Homo sapiens: one gene and its partners. The protein of the gene in region 2 purifies or fractionates together with the protein of the main gene of each other region. This does not show direct contact. Each region holds a gene or a part of one and is shown on either strand. Other genes may lie near its edges.

Region 1 (3,629 bases), on a different chromosome or scaffold from region 2:
AAATTAGCCGGGCACGGTGGCGGGCGCCTGTAGTCCCAGCTACTCGGGAGGCTGAGGCAGGAGAATGGCGTGAACCCGGGAAGCGGAGCTTGCAGTGAGCCGAGATTGCGCCACTGCAGTCCGCAGTCCGACCTGGGCGACAGAGCGAGACTCCGTCTCAAAAAAAAAAAAAAAAAAAAAAAAAAAAAAAATGATGCTGTAATAGACAGAGGATGTGACAAAAGGTTGAAAACACATTCCTCGATGATTATGGTATAAGGAGAACCACCTCTGAGTTTAGAATTTATAGGATGTTTCAACCCCTGTGTTTCTATAATGGGCTTTTCTTTTCTTTTGAGACAGGGTCTCACTCTGTTGCCAGGCTACAGTGCAGTGAGGCTATCTTGGCTCACTGCAGCCTCGACCTCCTGGGCTCAAGTGAGCCTCCCACCTCCGCTCTGGAGTAGCTGGGACTACAGGCGTGTGCCACCACACCCAGCTAATTTTTCCATTTTTTGTATGGGTGGGTGACTTTTAAATGTGCCTCTTTCTCAACAGACTTCTTTTCATCCTTATAAGAGATATAATCCTCAACATACTTAGCATTTCATGAACAATAAAAGTATTGTTTCTCAAATCTGTAGACAATTAGGGAAGAGGTCTAATTCATTATCAAAGCTTCAGGAAGGTATTAAATGTTTTCTTTGGCTTTCCCCTATGGCTTAATGTACTTAGAGAGTCAATGACTGATTTTCCATGCCAACTTTGAAATCCTAACCTGGTTTCCCTCAGTTGCCTTAGACTTACCTGGATGGCATTCTCTATATCCTACCGTTCCTCTCAACCCCAAGTTTGTGAGTTAGTGACTACAGATTGTTCAACATTTGCTTAAAGAGTAATCAACACAGCAAATCTGCTATTATTATAATAAAAAATCATTAATTAGGCTGGGTGCAGTGGCTCATGCCTGTAATCCCAGCACTTTGGGAGGCCACGCTGGGAGGATGGCTTGAGTCCAGGCATTTGAGACCAGCTTGGGCAACATATCGAGAACTTGTCTCTACAAAAAAATCAAAAAATTAGTCAGGTATGGTGGTGCATGCCTGTGGTCCCAGCTACTCCGAAGACTAAGGTGAGAAGATCGCTTGAGCCCGGGAGGTGAGGCTGCAGTGAGCCGCGATTGTGCCACTGCACTCCAGCCTGGGCAACAGAGTGAGACCCTTTCTCAAAAAAAGAAAAGAAAATCATGAATTCATTCTGCATTATTGACACTTCTGCTCTGATTTCACATATAAGAGCGAACAGACTGCACTTGAGACCTCATGGGTGCTTGGTGTAATAATGAGTGTAACCCAAAATAGTAAAGAGGAGGAATGCACTTCCTATATCTTGCAGTCTGTTTCACTGTAGTGGTTGGTCTGTCTGTGTGTGTTTACCTGGGAGGTAGGATATGGGGCCAGTGGGCTGGTTGAAGACAGCTGTCTGCTGAAACCTTGATGTGCTTCAGGGCCAGGAGAAAGCGTGAGAGGGCTGACGGGAGGCTGCCGACGCCGAGACGGGCCGCTCAGGTTTGTGGTGGAAAGAGATGGGTTGCTAAGGGAAAACAGACGGAGCGAAGGGTGAAGAGCAGATGCGTTGGGAACAGATGTCTGTGGGTGGTTATTTAAGGAAGAGGAAAGCACAGTCTTATTGAGCGTGGCTTGGATGGAGGGGTTACTCCGAGAACTCTGGAGACCTGGAAGACAACAAATTCACAAGTTACTTATAATTTCAGACCAAATCTTTTGTATTCCAAAAATGAAAGAAAACTGTCTACTGTCACATGCGATGATGATTCTGTAGGTAAAGGAGCTCCTGGACAGCTCTCCTACAGGGACTGCATCCGATGCACCAATGGCAAGGAAAAGATGCCCCTGCACTAACAGAGATGGGGCCACAAAGATGACAACGATGTTTTCCCATGAGGAGGGAGATCACGTCAACAACCCCTAGGTGAGCAAAACTAGGTAAACCGGGGTAACAGAGGCAAATATTCCAGGTGCTCGGCCCAGACCCAGGGAAAGGACCCTAGGGCTGTACAACAAATTCTGTTTAGAGCCCCGGAAGGTCTCTGTCCCAAGCACACTGCCTGCATCCCCTGCTACCTTTGGAGAACATCCTTCCACGGCGAGTCATGGCCCTTGGGGAGCTGTCTTGGTGGTCTTTAATTACCCTTAGCACACTAGGGAGTCACAGGAAGGGACACTTCCCTGTATCTCCCACCCCAGGGTCCCTCTTTGATTTTCTGGTTCCCAGGAAATTGTTCATCACAGTCTATACCAACTCAGGGAAAAGGAAGTTTTTGCTGGTGCTTTATTTGGGGGACAGGGGTGAATTTGATCATGAGCAAGGAAATTTGGGAGAGAGATCTTTGCAGCATAGGCTGCTAGGGCATGAGCTCCCAGAAACTGGGGATCCTGTCCTATGCCCTGCTGGATCCTCAGCACCTGGCACAGGGCCTGGCATGGAGCAGGTTCGCCCAGTGAATCAATTATTCGGCTGCTGCTGCTGTGTGTATCTCAACTGGCAATACCTACGTTTTAACCTTCAGCCCATCTTTCTTGTACCAGCAGGTGGGGTAAGCAGAACTATGTGTTGTTTCGTGTTGACAAAAAATTTAAGTGTTTGATAAAAGTTACGAAAAGGAAGAAATGACAAAAATCCAGCAGCTGGCAAAATTATTATTATCACTATTATTATTATTATTTTTTTTGAGACAGAGTCTCGCTCTGTCACCCAGGCTGGAGTGCAGTGACATGATCTCAGCTCACTGCAAGCTCCGTCTCCCGGGTTCACGCCATTCTCCTGCCTCAGCCTCCCAAGTAGCTGGGACTACAGGCATGTGCCGCCACGCCTGGTTAATTTTTTGTAATTTTAGTAGAGATGGGGTTTCACCGTGTTAGCCAGGATGGTCTCGATCTCCTGACCTCGTGATCCACTCGCCTCGGCCTCCCAAAGTGCCGGGATTACAGGAGTGAGCCACCGCACCCAGCCTAAAATTCTTAAAAATAATTTTGCCGGCTGGGCGTGGCTCACGCCTGTAATCCCGGCACTTTGGGAGGCCGAGGCGGGTGGATCATGAGGTCAGGAGATCAAGACCATCCTGGCTAACAAGGTGAAACCCCGTCTCTACTAAAAAAATTAGCCGGGCGTGGTGGCAGGTGCCTGTAGTCCCAGCTACTGGGGAGGCTGAGGCAGGAGAATGGCGTGAACCTAGGAGGCAGAGCTTGCAGTGAGCCGAGATGGCGCCACTGCACTCCAGCCTGGGCGACACAGCAAGAGTCTGTCTCAAAAAGAAAAAAAAAAAAGAAAATACAGAAACTGACATTGGTTCTGACATGTTCTGGATAAAATAGTGCTTTTTTGAGAAGACAACCAGTGACTAAACATAAGATCTTCAGCTTGAAGCAAAGTGTCAAAGGCTGTACTGGAAAATGCCAGCTTCCCTGAGACCCAAAGGAGCTATGTGCTGATGCTGCTTTACTTCTGGGACCCTAGATATCTTCATACATTGAGGATTCACCCAAAAGGTGAATTGCCCAGACTCTGAATCTGGGCATAAAGGTTTCGAGAGTTTCTCCTGTGAAGCAAATATCAAATTTCTCCTATGA
Region 2 (3,629 bases):
AGGAGTTTGAGACTAGCCTGGCCAACATGTTGAAACCCCATCTCTACTAAAAATACACAAAATTATCTGGGCATGGTGGCACATACCTGTAATCCCAGCTACTTGGGAGGCTGAGACACAAGAATCACTTGAACCCGAGAGGCAGAGGTTGCAGTGAGCTGAGATTGTGCCACTGCTCTCCAGCCTGGGTGACAGAGCGAGACTGTCTCAAAAAAAAAAAACACGCCACAGGGGACAAAAAAAAATAACCATACAGAAAGAGCTGGCAGGGTAGCACGTGCCTATAGTCCCAGCTACCTGAGAGGCTGATGGGGGAAGATTACTTGTGCCCAGGAGATTGAGTCCAGCCTGAGCAACACGGCAACACTCCATCTCTGAAAAAATAATTTTTAAAGAAAAAACATGGAAAGGCTTCATCTTAGGACAACTTAGTAACACTATAAGCACAGAAGAGAGAAACATAAGTAGCTCACCTGTAGGATGGTTACGGTTTTCTTCTTTTAAATTATTTTTTTCCACAGGTGCTTCTTGATACTGTGCCTCAGAAAATAAATTAGGAGACGCACGTTTTGAAGTTAAGACAAAATCTCCATGAGCAGTTCTACAGAAGTTGCTTTGCTCATGGGATAAAATGTTGGACGGGTATGTTTCTTCCTGGGTTGGGTCCGGGTAGACATATGATGGGAAGCAGCATGTGGCTCTCTCTCCAGTGGTGGTATTTCCTGGAGACCTGTGCTTCTGGCTCTGATCATCAGGCAGTAAACTCAAACCTTACAATTAAGAAATGCAACAAAGCTGATGACTTCCTTCAACATTTTCTCTTTTATCCCCAGTAGTGACCCCCACCCCACAAAGACTTCTCCACAGTGACAACAGTATTTTTTCCCTTTATTAGGAAATGGTGTTTAACAAAACCATTGATTGTTTGAGACAGTCTCGCTCTGTCGCCAAGGCTGAAGTGCAGTGGTGCGATCTCAGCTCACTGCAACCTCCACCTCTTGGGTTCAAGTGATTCTCGTGCCTCAGCCTCCTGAGTAGCTGGGATTACAGGCGTGTGCCACCACGCCCAGCTAATTTTTTATATTTTTAGAACAGATAGGGTTTCACCATGTTGGCCAGGCTGGTCTTGAACTCCGGACCTCAGGTGATCTGCCGGCCTTGGCCTCCCAAAGTACTGGGATTACAGGTGTGAGCCACTATGTCTAGCCTGTTTAAATTTCTAATGCAGTAAGTTATTGGTAAATACAGCCCATATAACAAAAGTTCTTTGGGGCTCTCAAATATTTAAGAATCCTAAGGGATCCTGAGACCAAAATATTTGAAAACTACTGCTCCAAAGCAAACTGCTCCATGACTGCATGAGGCTAGTTCTTATGTAAATAACTTTGAAATCAGCTTCCCTGTCATTCTGTCATAGTGCGGTTCTACCTTTAAAAGTATCACAGCTGTTATTTAAGTGATCTTGATTATTCTTTGTATGTATTCCATAAAGAAACCCTAAGCCATTCAACTATTTTAAGGCACACAAATGTTTTCTATATTCTCTAAGATAAACATCCAAATTCCCTAAACCATTGTTTATGTGCTACAATTTCTCATGACCACACCCCACCTGACCCCTGCACCCAGCCTCACTCACTTGCCAAGTCTTTTTTTCCTTGTATTCTCAATGCCCAGCATAATCTCTGAGCAGAACAGGTGCTTTCCTGGGTCAGTAAAGTATATTTCTTAAAAGAAGCAAACACATGGCTCCAACCTCAGTTTTTTTCAAACTATGGGACACAATCTATAATAATTTTATTATCGGATGTAGCATTTTTTAAAATGATATAGAACTAGAATAAACAAGACAGAAAATGTCCTCACTACATGCCAGGAACACCAATAAGGACTGATGACATGAAATTGCTTTGTCATTATGAGTCACGATTTTAAACATTTTTACTACTACAGAGTGTGGTCAAGAAACTTTCAAACCACTGCTCCAGGTCACATTTCCAGTTTTCTTTCCTGATTGGCACGTGACGCTTTCCGTTAACTGATGGGTCACACAACAGAATACTGTCATCTCCTACCACAGAAAATATCTTTGGTATGGTTCTTCAGCTGAACAGAGTGGCTCCTACATGTATTTACCTTCATGACACCCAACAGTTTTCATTCATCAGGCAGGGGTTGGATACCAGCAGCAGCTCTAGGCCAAATCTGACTTTTCTTCTATTGGACCTTTTTTGGGGGGACAGGGTCTCACTCTGTTGCCCGGCTGGAATGCAGTGGTGCCATTATAGCTCACTGCTGCAGCCTCAAATTCCTGGGCTCAAGCAATCCTCCCACCTCAGTCTCCAGAGTAGCTAGGACTGCAGGCATGGACCACCACACCCAGCTCATTTTTTTTTTTTTTTTAATGAATAAACATCAATGCCTTAAAGCAGGGCATGCGCACACCAGAATGCGGCAGCTCCTTCTTGTTCCAGTTGTATTACAACTCTACCATTTCACATTTATCGGGCTAGCCTTTAAAGAAACTGGAGTTCACAACACATGATACAGGAACGATAGAAATAACGTGTCAAACAACTACAGGTAAGAAATGTGCATTATACTGAGGCCCTGTGTAGGCAAAGCATACCTGGAAGTGTGCACTGCCCAGACACCATGGTGAGCAGCTTCTCTTGTTCTTCCATGAGTCTCTGTAGTTGCTCCAACTGTTGCCTCTTCAATTGTTCCTGCTTCTTCTGTTGTACTTCTTTCAGCTTTTTAAATACAAAATTAACTTTATTAAATCAACTTTACAATTCTTCATGGACACCTCGTTCCCTTAATTCCTCCCATCTCCCTCCTCCTATCTTTCCTGGTAAGAAGTTTTAGACAGGGACCCCTAGGTAACTAAATCAGCCACCGAAAATCTAAAACTCATATCCTTACGAAGGAAATCTTATCAACTATCTCAACTAAGAAACCGAAACAGTCATATAAATCCTTTGATTGTTAAAATAGGATGGGCATCAGTACATCATCCAATTTTTTCCCCTAATACTTGATCAACCATTTCTTACTTTTCGCCAAATGAGGTAACAACTTAAAGTTATTATAAGTGCTAATTAAACACACTTAAATGTTTCACATTAGACAAAGGGCAAAATCTGGTATTCTGAGGATTTCAGAGTGAAGGGGAAAAAACAAGAAGACCTAGAACAAATGACTTTATTACATAAACAGAAACCTGCAATGACATAAATTCACAGTAGGCCAAATCCTATTGTACCTGTTCAAGTTTTTTAAAAAGTGGGTCTTTATAAGCCCCTTCTTTGAATTCACTCGCAAGATCTGGGATGAAGTCATTTTTGTTTTCTTCCTGGTGTCCAGGAGCACTGTGACATGCCGCTACCTGTGGTCCCTTTTTAATGCAAGGAAAGGCTGTATGGGTTTCAGATTTATCTGACTGTGGTTTGTAAGGGTTGTTTGACTCCAACTTCTGTTCTTCAAGAAGTGAATCTTCTTCATTTATAAAGCTGAAGCTATCAGAAAAATGTGTGCCTTTAATAGGAAAGCTGGTAGAAATGTCCACAGCTGCTCGCTTCTCTTTGTCTGCTTCCAAAATAGGAAATCCACGATTTAATATGACCCCA
Region 3 (3,629 bases), on a different chromosome or scaffold from region 2:
TTGAGACCTGAATGGCCAGGAGCTTTCAGATGACACTGTCCTTCCAGAGGAGACATTCTCAGGAGCTTTATGCCAAGGGACACTGTCTGTGGAGAATTTGTCTGATTTGGAGACCAAGTAATTTGCTCCCTTCCCCCATACCCTGAACTCCCAGTGGGCCACTGGGGAGCACAAGGTCTGCTGTGCACAGGGTGAGCAGGGGGACTGTTCCCGGCCCAACTTTTTTTTTTTTTTTTTTTTTGAGACAGAGTCTCACTCTGTTTCCCAGGCTGGAGTGCAGTGGCGCGATCTCAGCTCACTGCAAGCTCCGCCTCCTGGGTTCAAGTGATTCTCCTGCCTCAGCGTCCCAAGTACCTGGGATTACAGGTGTGCGCCACCATGCCCAGCTAATTTTTTTATTTTTAGTAGAGACGGGGTTTCACCATGTTGGTCAGGCTGGTCTTGAACTCCTGACCTTGTGATCCGCCTGCCTTGGCCTCCCAAAGTGCTGGGATTACAGGCGTGAGCCACTGCGCTCCATCCCGGCCCGACTTTTGGGGAGTGAAGCTTTGTCCTCTGCAGTCACACAACATGACAACCTGGGAGGAACTGCAGTTTAAATCTGATTCCAAGGCTTTTTCCCCCAACCCAGGTCAACACACTCAACCAGGCAGGGTGGCTCAGGACATCAGCACAGCACAGTCCCCTACTCGACACTTTACAGATGTGGATTTGCAGGTGTTCTGCGACTTGCCCAGGGTCATGCTTGTGGGAAGCAAAGCTGGGAAAACAGATTCTGTGCCTCCTGCAGTCTTTTCTCCCCGATGGATCAGGCATTACACACAGAAGCGTGATTTTGGAATAATAGACTCTGGAGTTATTCTTATGTTCTTCTCTGTGACTGAACTGCTCTGTCCCCACCCCTCTAGGGAGTGTCCCAGGGAGCCTGTGGGCTGCTGTGACTGGCTCTATAGTTCTTTCCTGCCCATCCTTCCAGGCCTGGTGACAGAACCTATGCTGGTCTGCTGCAGGGAGTGGCTGACCTCCCATCAAATTACCTCAGAACTCTGTGGCCAGCCTCCTTGCCCTCTGTGTTGCCAGTCCAGAGCATTCAGTGTCCCCAGACCCCCCACTGCCTTCCTTTATCCAGGTCCTAATCATAATCCTATCACCTCCTGCCCTAAAAACCTCTGCTTGCAAGATCAAGTCCATGCAACTGAGTTAGGTGTTTGTGGCCCCTTCTAAACTGGACCAAAGCCTCACCTCCCACTCCTCCCCACTCACATCCTGATGCCCTAGATAAGCGGCACTGCAGCGGGAGTGCACCATCACGCGCATACGTGACGCACGCACACTCAACTATGTGGCTCAGCCAAGAAAAAGCAGAGTGAGAAAAAAGTAATAATGCAAAGACGGCCCTGGAGGCTCTGCCTGCCACCCCAGTCCATGAGTGAGAGCGAGGGAGCCGGGCAGGAGATGTGGCTCTGTTGCTCGCTCCTGTGCTCCCATCCTTGTGGGCTCCTCCCAGAATGAGCATCTCCTCACCCTGAGAATGATCCTAAGGACTAAACACAGGCCTTGGTTGCACCACAGAGCCCCCAAATGCAAGGCAAGCACCTCGCGTAAAGGAAACAAAGCAATCTGCTCCCGTGCGGCAGGAAAAGCTGGCTGTAAGGGGCCTAAAGACAGGCCTGGCCTTTACAAGTGGGCAGAGAACATGTTTTCAAGGATAAAATGATACAGTACTTTTGCTTTACATTTTGGAGAAGAATCACTGAATATTCTTCCAAACGTGGCTTTCCGCCCCTCCGCCTTGCTCACACTGCTTCCTGGTGCCCTTAAGATTCAGCTCCAGTGTCCCCTCTTCTGGGAAGCTTTTGCAGACAGCCCCAGACAGGCCTGGCCACACCCTCCTCTATGTCCCAAATGCCTTTGAGTTTTCTCCTATCAAGGAAGGGGAGACACACATGATGCTCACGTGTCTGTCTATCTCAGGAGACTGGGGTTACCCTCTGGGGCCGGTCCCTGGGAGGATCTGCTATGGGACACCAGCTGGAGGCTGGCTAGGCAGTGAGGCAACAACCCAATTCCTTCAACTCCTCGGGCCCTGCTTGGATCCTCTGGAGACACCACTGTGCCAGGACTCCTGATGAGCCACAGAGAATGTGCCATGAGGTCTGTTCCTACATGGGGAGGTAGAAGACCCCTTACCTGGTGCAACCATAATTTCATTTTTCTTGGAGCGAATTCGAAGGAAGGTGAGATCGTTCTGGGGGTCGATGTCACGCACGGTGCTCCGTGCCTTCAGGATGAAGCTGTGCATGAGGCTGGCATACTGGGTGGTGGTGGGGTTGTCCATGGTGCTCTTGATGGGAATGCCTGAGGGGAGAGCAGACGGAGACTGAGAGGATGTGGAGCCCCTTCTGCCGAGCTCCCACCCACACCCCTAATTGGGGAGAACTGGAATAGCAGTTCTCAGTCAATGCCACCATCCGCAGAGGGCTTGCTATGTGACAGGCATGGTGCTGAGCACCCGAAGCATGCCAGTGCCATGCCCTAGAACTACTCTGTGGGTGGCAACACCATCTCATTCGCCCATGAGGCAACAGGAGCTCTGAGTGATGAGGCGACCTGTCTGTAGTCACACAGTGGGGCCAGGATTCACATGCAGGCCTGCTGGCTCACTCCTGGGTTCCTTTCCCAGGGCTGATTGGTTCCCAGCAGTAAAAGGAGAGACTAGCTCTGATTCATGCAGGGACACAGATTTAAAAAACTAACAAAATCAGGTTTTTATTTTTTTGTCCAAAAAAAGAGAGACTCTCATTCATAGTGCTTAGAATTGAAACCAGGAAGCGCTTTTACAAATTTCTTTTTTTTGAGACGGAGTCTTGCTCTGTTGCCCAGGCTGGAGTGCAGTGGCTCACTGCAACCTCTGCCTCCCGGGTTCAAGTGATTCTCCTGCCTCAGTTTCCCAAGTATCTGGGATTACAGGCGCGTGCCACAGCACCCAGCTAGCTAATTTTTGTATTTTTAGTAGAGACAAGGTTTCACCATGTTTGCCAGGCTGGTCTTGAACTCCTGACCTCAGGTGATCCGCCCACCTCGGCCTCCCAAAGTGCTGGGATTACAGACGTGAGCCATCGCACCCTGCCTTACAAACTTCTTTTATTTATTTTATTTTATTTTTTGAGATGGAGTCTTGCTGTGTCGCCCAGGCTGGAGTGCAATGGTGCAACCTCGGCTCATTGCAACCTCCGCCTCCCAGGTTCAAGTGATTCTCCTGCCTCAGCCTCCTGTGTAGCTGGAACTACAGACGCGCACCACCACACCTGGCTGATTTTTGTATTTTTAGAAGAGACGGGGTTTCACCATACTGGCCAGGCTAGTCTTGAACTCCTGACCTCATGATCCACCCGCCTCGGCCTTCCAAAGTGCTGGGATTACAGGCGTGAGCCACCGCGCCCGGCCACAAACTTCTACACACTAAAAAGTAGAAGAGAAAAAGTCAGCTTGTGCTGGGACATAACCATCATGATTTCCACCCAAGGGAGGCTTGGGTAGCAGCTATAAACACACTGTCCACATGGCCGTGCCAAGTTAAAGCATGTTTCTATGTTTGTACAACAGGCACAGAAACATGGAACATGTTG
Region 4 (3,629 bases), on a different chromosome or scaffold from region 2:
GGGATTTTTAGAAAGAGTTTTATTGAGGCATAATTCACGTCCCTATACAATTCATTCATTTAAAATGTACAGTTCTGTGTCTTTTAGTATATTCAACGTTGCGCAAACATTACCACAATCAATTTTAGAACATTTTCATTATCCCCCAAAAGAAACCCTGCATCCCTTAGCCTCTCGGTTCCCCGATCTACCCCAGTCCGGGCAACCACAATTCTACTTCCCATTTCTATGTTAATTTGCCTGTTCCGGACATTTCTTTTTTTCTTTTCTGTGTTTTTTTTTTTTTTTTTTGAGACAGAGTCTTGCTCTGTCGCCCAGGCTGGAGTACAGTGGCGCGATCTCAGCTCATTGCAATCTCCACCTCCCGGGTTCAAGCGATTCTTCTGCCTCAGCCTCCCGAGTAGCTGGGACTACAGGCGCGTGCCACCATGCCCGGCTAATTTCTGTATTTTTAGTAGAGATGGGGTTTCACCATATTGGCCAGGCTGGTGTCGAGCTCCCGGCCTCAGGTGATCCACCTGCCTTGGACTCCCAAAGTGCTGGGATTACAGGCATAAGCCACTGTGCTCAGCTTGATATTTCTTATAAACGGGATCATACCCCTGTGAGGTCCTTTCACTCAGCACATGGACAGTAGTGTTTTGATTTGTGCTGACTGGGTGGTGGCTTCACTGGGCAGTGCTCTGACTTAGGTTGGAGATCAAGCCTTTTTCCTATGCTCATGAGCCTTTTGTGTTTTCAGGGCTCCATTGGCCTCCAGAGGACTGGGAGCCTGCCCCGGAAAAGGGGGGAGAGGGGGAGCCAGAGAGGATCCCCCCGACCTCTGTCCTTCCATTGTACTGGTGAGGATCCCCCTGTTCCCCACTTCCTTCCCACATCAGCACTCATCCTGCAGCAGAGGATGGAGGAAACCCGCACCTATGCCTGCAGGGGAGAAGTGGATAGGCTCAGGCCAGGGTGTATCCAGCCCTGTAACCTGGTCCCCTCTACCCTAGAATCCCTGGAGGCCTCAGCTCTCCCGCCAGCAGTGGGGGACTCCGGCAGATACCCCCTCTACCAGCTGCTGAACTGTGGCCGTGGGAATAGGTGAGACATCAGAGAGAAGGTGGGGAGATGGAAGAAGAGGCCCAGCCACTGTAACCCACCCCGTCTGTGTTCCCTCCTCCTAGCTGTGGGGCCATCCATCCAGACATTGCCCACATGGAGCGGCTCCTGCAGCAGGCCATGGCGGAGAGGGAGCGGCTGCTCAAGGCCCGGGTGAGAGCCCAGGCCATCCTCTTCGGAACAGAAGACTGCCCCAGCCTCTCCTCCCTCAGACCTGGGAGACCCCCAACTCCACCTCCCTCAGACCCAGGGGTCCAGGCCCCCAGCCCCTCCACCCTCAGACCCAGGAGTCCAGGCCCCCAGCCCATCCTCCCTCATACCCAGGAGTCCAGGCCCCCAGTCCCTGTACCCTCAGAACAGAGAAGCTAGGACATTCTCCAGCCACCCTACCATCTTATGGGCTGGGATCCTCATTGAGTGCTTCATCCTGAATCCACAGGAAGGAACAAGAAGGGGCACGGAAGGTTCCTCAGGCCCTGCTGTTCCTGCCATCACGGTCAGTCCCACCCCCGCCCTCACGCCCACCTCTCCCTGCTCTGTTTCTCCCCCTGACCTATGCCCTTTCTTACATCTGACCCTTTCCTCTCCTCCAATTGAACAGAAAATTGTCCTGGGCTTGGCAAGGGAAAGGGAACTGCAGAGGACCAGTTCCTGTTCCCATGACCGGATGATGGTCATCTCCATGTGTGGCAGGTCCTCGGGTAACTTGCTCTACTCTGCCTCATTTTCCTCTTCTGTACATTGGTGACAATGTCAGCAGTCAGTACAGAAGGAGGACAAGTCCATGCTGGGACTTATTCCTGGCCTCAAGCAATCCTCCTGCCTCAGCCTCCCAGAGTACTGGGATTATAGCGTGAACCACCATGCCCAGTCCATGCTGGAACTTTTAAAAATCATTTAAAATTTTGTTTTTGGCTGGGTGCAGTGGCTCATGCCTGTAATCCCAGCACTTTGGGAGGCCAAGGCGGGTGGATCACCTGAGTTTGCGACCAGCCTGGCCAGCATGGTGAAACCCCATCTCTACTAAAAATACAAAAATTAGCCGGGCATGGTGGCACATGCCTGTAATCCCAGCTACTCGGGAGACTGAGGCATGAGAATCACTTGAACCCGCAGGTGGAGGTTGCAGTGAGCCGAGATTGTACCACTACACTCCAGCCTTGGCAATAAGAGCGAAAATCTGTCTCAAAAAAAAAAAAAAATCAAAACCAAAAAACTGTTTTTATTTTTATTTATTTAAAAAACTTTTTAGGCCGGGCGCAGTGGCTCACGCCTGTAATCCCAGCACTTTGGGAGGCTGAGGTGGGTGGATCATGAGGTCAGGAGTTCAAGACCAGCCTGGCCAAGATGGTGAAACCCCGTCTCTACTAAAAATACAAAAAATTAGCCGGGCATGGTGGCGGGCACCTGTAATCCCAGCTACTCAGGAGGCTGAGGCAGAGAATTGCTTGAACCTGGGAGGTGCAGGTTGCAGTGAGCCAAGATCACACCACTGCACTCCAGTCTTGGTGACAGACCAAGATTCTGTCTCAAAAAAAAAAACAAAAAACCTTTTTACGATAGAAATATTCAAGCATATGCATGAGAGAAGGAGTAGATTAATAGACCCCCAGGTGCCCACTGCGCAGCTTTAATCATTTTCAATATTGAATCTTGTACTTGCCAACTTTTTATTTATTTTATTTAACATTTTAATTTGTGTATGTACTAGGTATATATATTTTATTTTTATTTTTAATATTTTTCTTTTTTTCTCATAAGTCTTCTGCACTCCTATATTTTTAATGTATTTTATTTTTGTAGAGATAGAGTCTTGCTATGTTGTCCAGGCTGATCTCAAACTCCTGGCCTCAAACAATCCTCCCATGTCAGCCTCCAAGCTGCTAGAATTATAAGAATAATTCTAGGGCATTGGTGCCCAGCCACCAATTTTATTTTACTAATCCCATACCTACATCCCACTCTGCACTGAAATATTTTAAAGCAAAATATTGTATCCTTTCACTCAAACATCACTGTGTATCTCCAATAGATAGGCTTGTTTTTTGGGGGACAGAGTTTTACTCTTGTCGCCCAGGCTAGAGTGCAGTGATGTGATCTCAGCTCACTGGAACCTCTGCCTCCCTGGTTCAAGCGATTCTTCTACCTCAGCCTCCCGAGTAGCTGGGAGTACAGGTGCCCACCACCACACCCATTTATTTTTTTTGTTTGTTTTTAGTAGCGATGGGGTTTTGCCATGCTGTCCGGGCTGGTCTTGAACTCCTGACCTCAGGTGATCTGTGTGCCTTGGCCTCAAAAAGTGCTGGGATTAAAAGTGTAAGCCACTGTGCCTGGCCAATAAGTTTTTTTTTTTTTTTAACATAACAAAAATTCCATTGTCACATCTTATGAGATTATTAATTTCATTATATTGTAATATATAGTCCATATTCACATTTCTCTCATTGTCTCCAAAATATGTTTTTAAAAATTTATTTATTATTTTTCTTTTCCTTTTTTTTTTTTTTTTCCAAGATGGAGTCTCA
Region 5 (4,224 bases), on a different chromosome or scaffold from region 2:
TTGTTGCCCAAGCTGGAGTGCAATGGCACGATCTTGGCTCACTGCAACCTCCGCCTCCCGGGTTCAAGCTATTCTCCCGCCTCAGCCTCCCAAGCAGCTGGGATGTCAGGCATGCGCCACCACGCCCGGCTAATTTTGTATTTTTTGTAGAGACGGGATTTCACCACGTTAGCCAGGCTGGTGTCCAACTCCGGACCTCAGGTGATCCGCCCGCCTCGGCCTCCCACAGTGCTGGCATTACAGGCGTGAGCCCTGGCCAGCCTAAGTACATTTTTGAAGGTGCTTTAATACTTTGGTTAGCAAAGTTTATGCAAACCAAAAAATTCTATATTGTGCCTTGGGAACTCTAATTTAGCACACACCAGCACTATACTAGCGCCGTAGTTTTTCTACACCATGGACACAAAAAACATTAAACAGTAAAATAAAAGGCAGATTTTCAGGAGGTTAAAAAGGTTGGAATTAAATTACCCGGCCAGCGCGACAGTTGTCAAAGCTGTACTTCGGACTCCCTGGTTCCATTCCTCCCTCCTCCTCCCGTCCCAACGCCAGAGCGGAGGTGGGGAGGGGGCAAGATGGGCGAGGCAGAGATGCTCTCCCAGCCGCCGGTTCTTCCAGCGCCGCGCACCTGCCGCCCCTTCCTCCATGCGGTCGCTGCAGCCTTCCCGCCGGACGCCTCGCCCCCCCGGGCAGGGGCGCACCTGGACCACCTGCCTCCCCGCCTCTGCCCCGAGCCTGCGGGGGCCAGGGGAGCCCGGCGCGCTGTTGTTTTTTTTTTTTTTTTTTTTTTAAAGTCAGCCTCCTAGAGGATGTTGGATTTGGCGGGTGTGCTCTTTGAAATACTATATCGGGAACCTCACACATAATTTTTTTTTTTTAATTGCAAACCTTCCCAGTTCACTCCGCAGCTGGAGAGCAGGCCGGAGGCGGCGTTCCCCACCCGTCTCCCTCTTTGTCGTCCCCTCCCCGCGCCCGGAGCGGGACTCGCGGGAGCCGCCCACTCCCGGCGCCCACTTGGTTCCTCCCAGCTGCCGTGTGAATGGGCCGTCCTCCGGATTCCGCGGAGGGGGCGGCGGGAAGGGGCCGAGCCCCGGGCCCAGCGGCCGCCCCCGCCCCCGCCCGGCGGCGGCCCACGCCGGGATCTGCGTCACTCGGCCGCGCGTGGGCGGGAGCCGGAGCGGCGAATGTAGCAAGAGCGGAATCTCCCAATGTGACAGCGCGGGGTGGGGGAGTGGAGGCGGCGGAGGCGGGCGGGGGAGGGGGAGGAGGGTGTAGCGCGCGCGGGGAAGGCAGGGGAGGGGAGGGCAAGGCGCGGCGGGGGAGGCGCTGCCGCCGCCGCCGCCGCCCGCGCGCCGCAGCCTGGAGGAGCCGCCGCCGCCGCCGCGGCCAAGCGAGCGCCGTCGGGGCGGGTGGGCGGGAAGAAGCGGCGGGCCCGAGGTGGGGGGGAGCAGAGAGAGCGCGCCCACCACCTTCCCTTCCCCCCTCGATGGGAGCGGGGGCGTCCCGGCTCCTGCAGCCGCCAGAGGAGGGAGAGCCGGGGGCCGTCGCTTCGGAGTTGGGGCTGAGCAGTCCTCGGGGAGAGCGCGCCAAGACCGCTGCAGCCGCTGGCTGAGTACGTACCGGAGCGGACGGTCGCCACTCCCGGTCCGCCAAGTGCGGGACACTTTCGCGGCTGAGCGGCCACGGGCGAACTTGGGGCGGCTGAGTCGCGGGGCCACGCGGGCACTTTGGGGGCGGTGTCCGGGGGAAGCGGGCTCCGCGCGGCCGCCGCCGGAAGGAGAGGGCGGCCCCGGGCTCGTGTGGGCGATTCCCGGAGACATTCTGTGTGCCAGGGCGGCGGGGAGCGCGGCCCTGACTCGTGCATTTTCCCTCCGAGAAAGGTTGGGGTGCCGAGTCCGTTTTGCTAACGGGGCTGGGGGCGTCACACGGCGCTCTGGGGGTGTGCGATGTGGGTTGTGCGCGCCGGCCCCAGAGTTTTGCAGCCACCTTCGTCAGGGCAGTCTTTTTGTTTGTTTACTTTATAAAAGTGCTGCACTTACCGTCTCGATTTTCTTCTTGGGTATCTTCCCTTTCCGAATGTAGTTTTCTTTTTAAAAGCGGAAGGAGAGTTTTACATGGAAGTGGCTTACAGAAACTTGGCGCTGAGGTGCAGGGAAGCCAGAAACTCTTTGTGTCTCTAAGGCCGATGAGGAATTTGGAAACACATGTGGGACATACAAGCGTTGGATATAGAGGTGTGTGTGTGTGACCTTATCATGGAGAAACACTGAAAATACTATCAAATCTTTGTGGTCTGCAAACTCAGAGCTTCCAAAGCTTGAGATAGGAAATGACACTTCTGTTAAGCCTGAATGTTGCAGGATCTCGGGGAAAGGGATAGTTGAGATGGAATATACATTTGTCGATTCTGCAGACCAAGCTTTGCAGCGAGTGATCGGGAGGAATCGTAGACTTGCATGTACTTACACCTCGCTCCCTGAGATTCGGGAGGCACGGAAAATTTTGGGATGGCTGTTAATTTAAAATTTCATCTGAAAGAGTCGATTTGGAGTAACTTGTCACTACCAGTTGGTTTGCCAGTGACGTGTCTGCCAACTCAAAGAGTGCAAAGATCAGAAGCTGAAAGAGGAATTCTCAGATCTTGTTTAAAAATATTTTGGCAGTTTTAATAGATAATATGAGATTGCATAGGAACAGAGGAGCCGAATTTAAAATAGATTAGTCACGTAGGAAATGCTTAGCTGTTGTAAAAGTGTTCACGCAATGACTTACCTTCCTAGGTTTTCACTTTTTTGAAAATTTTTCCCTGAACAACATACTGAATTATGATATTTCATAATTTGTGTGTGGGTTATAAGAAGTATGAGGAGAGAGGATGCATAGGATTTGCTTTTTCTGTTTTGGGTGGAGATTGAGCTTTTCCTGAAGACCTGAAAGAGCTGCTTCTGATCTAATCTGAGTGCCAGTAAAAGTGGCTCTTAGATGAAAGGCTTTTTCTTCTCCATATTGGTGTCATTTAAGACATACAATATTATCTTTAAGTTTAAAAGATTATATTTTTTCATCGGTATTAACATACAAATAAGGGTTTTCTTGAGTCTTTGTAGATGACTGGCTAGGTCAGCCTTTTTTATCCCTGATTTGGGTATTAGATATTGGAACATTAGGTCTTGAAAGAAAATTTCAAGGAACTTCTGGAAGAAGCTTTCTTGTTTCAATTTTATTATTTTTACCATTTTGCACTAAAGTTAATATGCCATTTCGAGATTAAAAATGTTTTTTTCCCGACTCTGATGGTCTCTTGTTACTTGTGAAGGTATCAATAATAATGTAATAATGACAACATTGAGGAACTGTAGATTTTTATTTTATTCTGCCTGCTAATTATGGATGTAATTCAAATGACAGAAATTCTTAGGATTACTATGGTTGTTACAAGGACATTTAGTAAGCTTATATGTCTAGTAAATAACTTGATCTATCTAAAAAATACTTTATCTCATCTTATTTCAAAATTATTCAGTTGAGTAATCTCTTTTTTGTAAGTGGCAAATAACATCCACTGTCGTATGAGAAAGTTAATAGATGTTTATTCTCCTTGTTAGAGAAACACTGAAAGCATTAGGTATTTTCATCACGGTATAGCTAAGAACCTATTGGTTTATTAAAGATTTTGGGGGTTTGCACTGTGGATGCTTCTTTGAAAGAAGAAATTATAAACTGGGGGACATCTTTGATGAATTTGTTAATGAACTTTAAATATTTAAAGTTCAGGTTGGATGAAAACAGAAGTATGTCAGTTTCTAAAGAAAATATAGACATGGGGTCTCGCTGTGTTGCCCAGGTTGGCCTCAAACTCCTGGGGCCAAGGGATTATCCCACCTTAGCCTCCGAAGTTATGTCAGGTTTCATTGGCCTAAGACTTAGGACTCATTTATTCCATTATAACAAGCCTGGAGCTGTTTTTTGTGAGTGCTATTTATGTACATTTTTGGAAATGAAATCTTTGTAAAATTTACCTTTAAATGCAAAGCTGTGTTTTGGATGGAAGTGACCATTTTATAATATGTTTTGAACAGTTTAAGATCATGCTAATGTATAATCAACCCGTCTATGCATATTTCATTGTGGAATTTGCTAAACATATTATAGCATAAATAATACCCACTTGAGCATAATAGAAGATTGCTAGACCCTTTGCTTTGGATTTATTTTTATCTTACC

What was found.
Region 1: the proteins of CPAP (region 2) and CRTC3 purify together in Homo sapiens (affinity purification with mass spectrometry; one large-scale study listed by BioGRID and IntAct). This does not show direct contact.
Region 3: the proteins of CPAP (region 2) and DYNLRB1 purify together in Homo sapiens (affinity purification with mass spectrometry; one large-scale study listed by BioGRID and IntAct). This does not show direct contact.
Region 4: the proteins of CPAP (region 2) and PHLDB3 purify together in Homo sapiens (affinity purification with mass spectrometry; one large-scale study listed by BioGRID and IntAct). This does not show direct contact.
Region 5: the proteins of CPAP (region 2) and NAB1 purify together in Homo sapiens (affinity purification with mass spectrometry; one large-scale study listed by BioGRID and IntAct). This does not show direct contact.

Annotation. Positions count from the first base shown.
Region 1 is NC_000015.10:90,627,319-90,630,947, reverse strand, and holds part of CRTC3 (CREB-regulated transcription coactivator 3), read right to left. Parts: intron 1,715-3,629; coding exon 1,416-1,714; intron 1-1,415. UniProt on the Homo sapiens protein: Transcriptional coactivator for CREB1 which activates transcription through both consensus and variant cAMP response element (CRE) sites.
Region 2 is NC_000013.11:24,909,317-24,912,945, forward strand, and holds part of CPAP (centrosomal P4.1-associated protein), read right to left. Parts: coding exon 3,266-3,629; intron 2,754-3,265; coding exon 2,630-2,753; intron 771-2,629; coding exon 474-770; intron 1-473. UniProt on the Homo sapiens protein: Plays an important role in cell division and centrosome function by participating in centriole duplication. Inhibits microtubule nucleation from the centrosome. Involved in the regulation of slow processive growth of centriolar microtubules.
Region 3 is NC_000020.11:34,533,357-34,536,985, reverse strand, and holds part of DYNLRB1 (dynein light chain roadblock-type 1), read right to left. Parts: intron 3,463-3,629; exon of another isoform or gene 3,381-3,462; intron 2,381-3,380; exon of another isoform or gene 2,359-2,380; coding exon 2,191-2,358; coding exon of another isoform or gene 2,072-2,190; exon of another isoform or gene 1,399-2,071; intron 1-1,398. UniProt on the Homo sapiens protein: Acts as one of several non-catalytic accessory components of the cytoplasmic dynein 1 complex that are thought to be involved in linking dynein to cargos and to adapter proteins that regulate dynein function.
Region 4 is NC_000019.10:43,484,237-43,487,865, reverse strand, and holds part of PHLDB3 (pleckstrin homology-like domain family B member 3), read left to right. Parts: intron 1-742; coding exon 743-842; intron 843-995; coding exon 996-1,086; intron 1,087-1,169; coding exon 1,170-1,257; intron 1,258-1,543; coding exon 1,544-1,600; intron 1,601-1,705; coding exon of another isoform or gene 1,706-1,852; exon of another isoform or gene 1,853-2,320; intron 2,321-3,629.
Region 5 is NC_000002.12:190,647,749-190,651,972, forward strand, and holds the start of NAB1 (NGFI-A-binding protein 1), read left to right. Parts: upstream 1-1,334; 5' UTR 1,335-1,612; exon of another isoform or gene 1,613-2,097; 5' UTR 2,098-2,234; intron 2,235-2,245; exon of another isoform or gene 2,246-4,224. UniProt on the Homo sapiens protein: Acts as a transcriptional repressor for zinc finger transcription factors EGR1 and EGR2.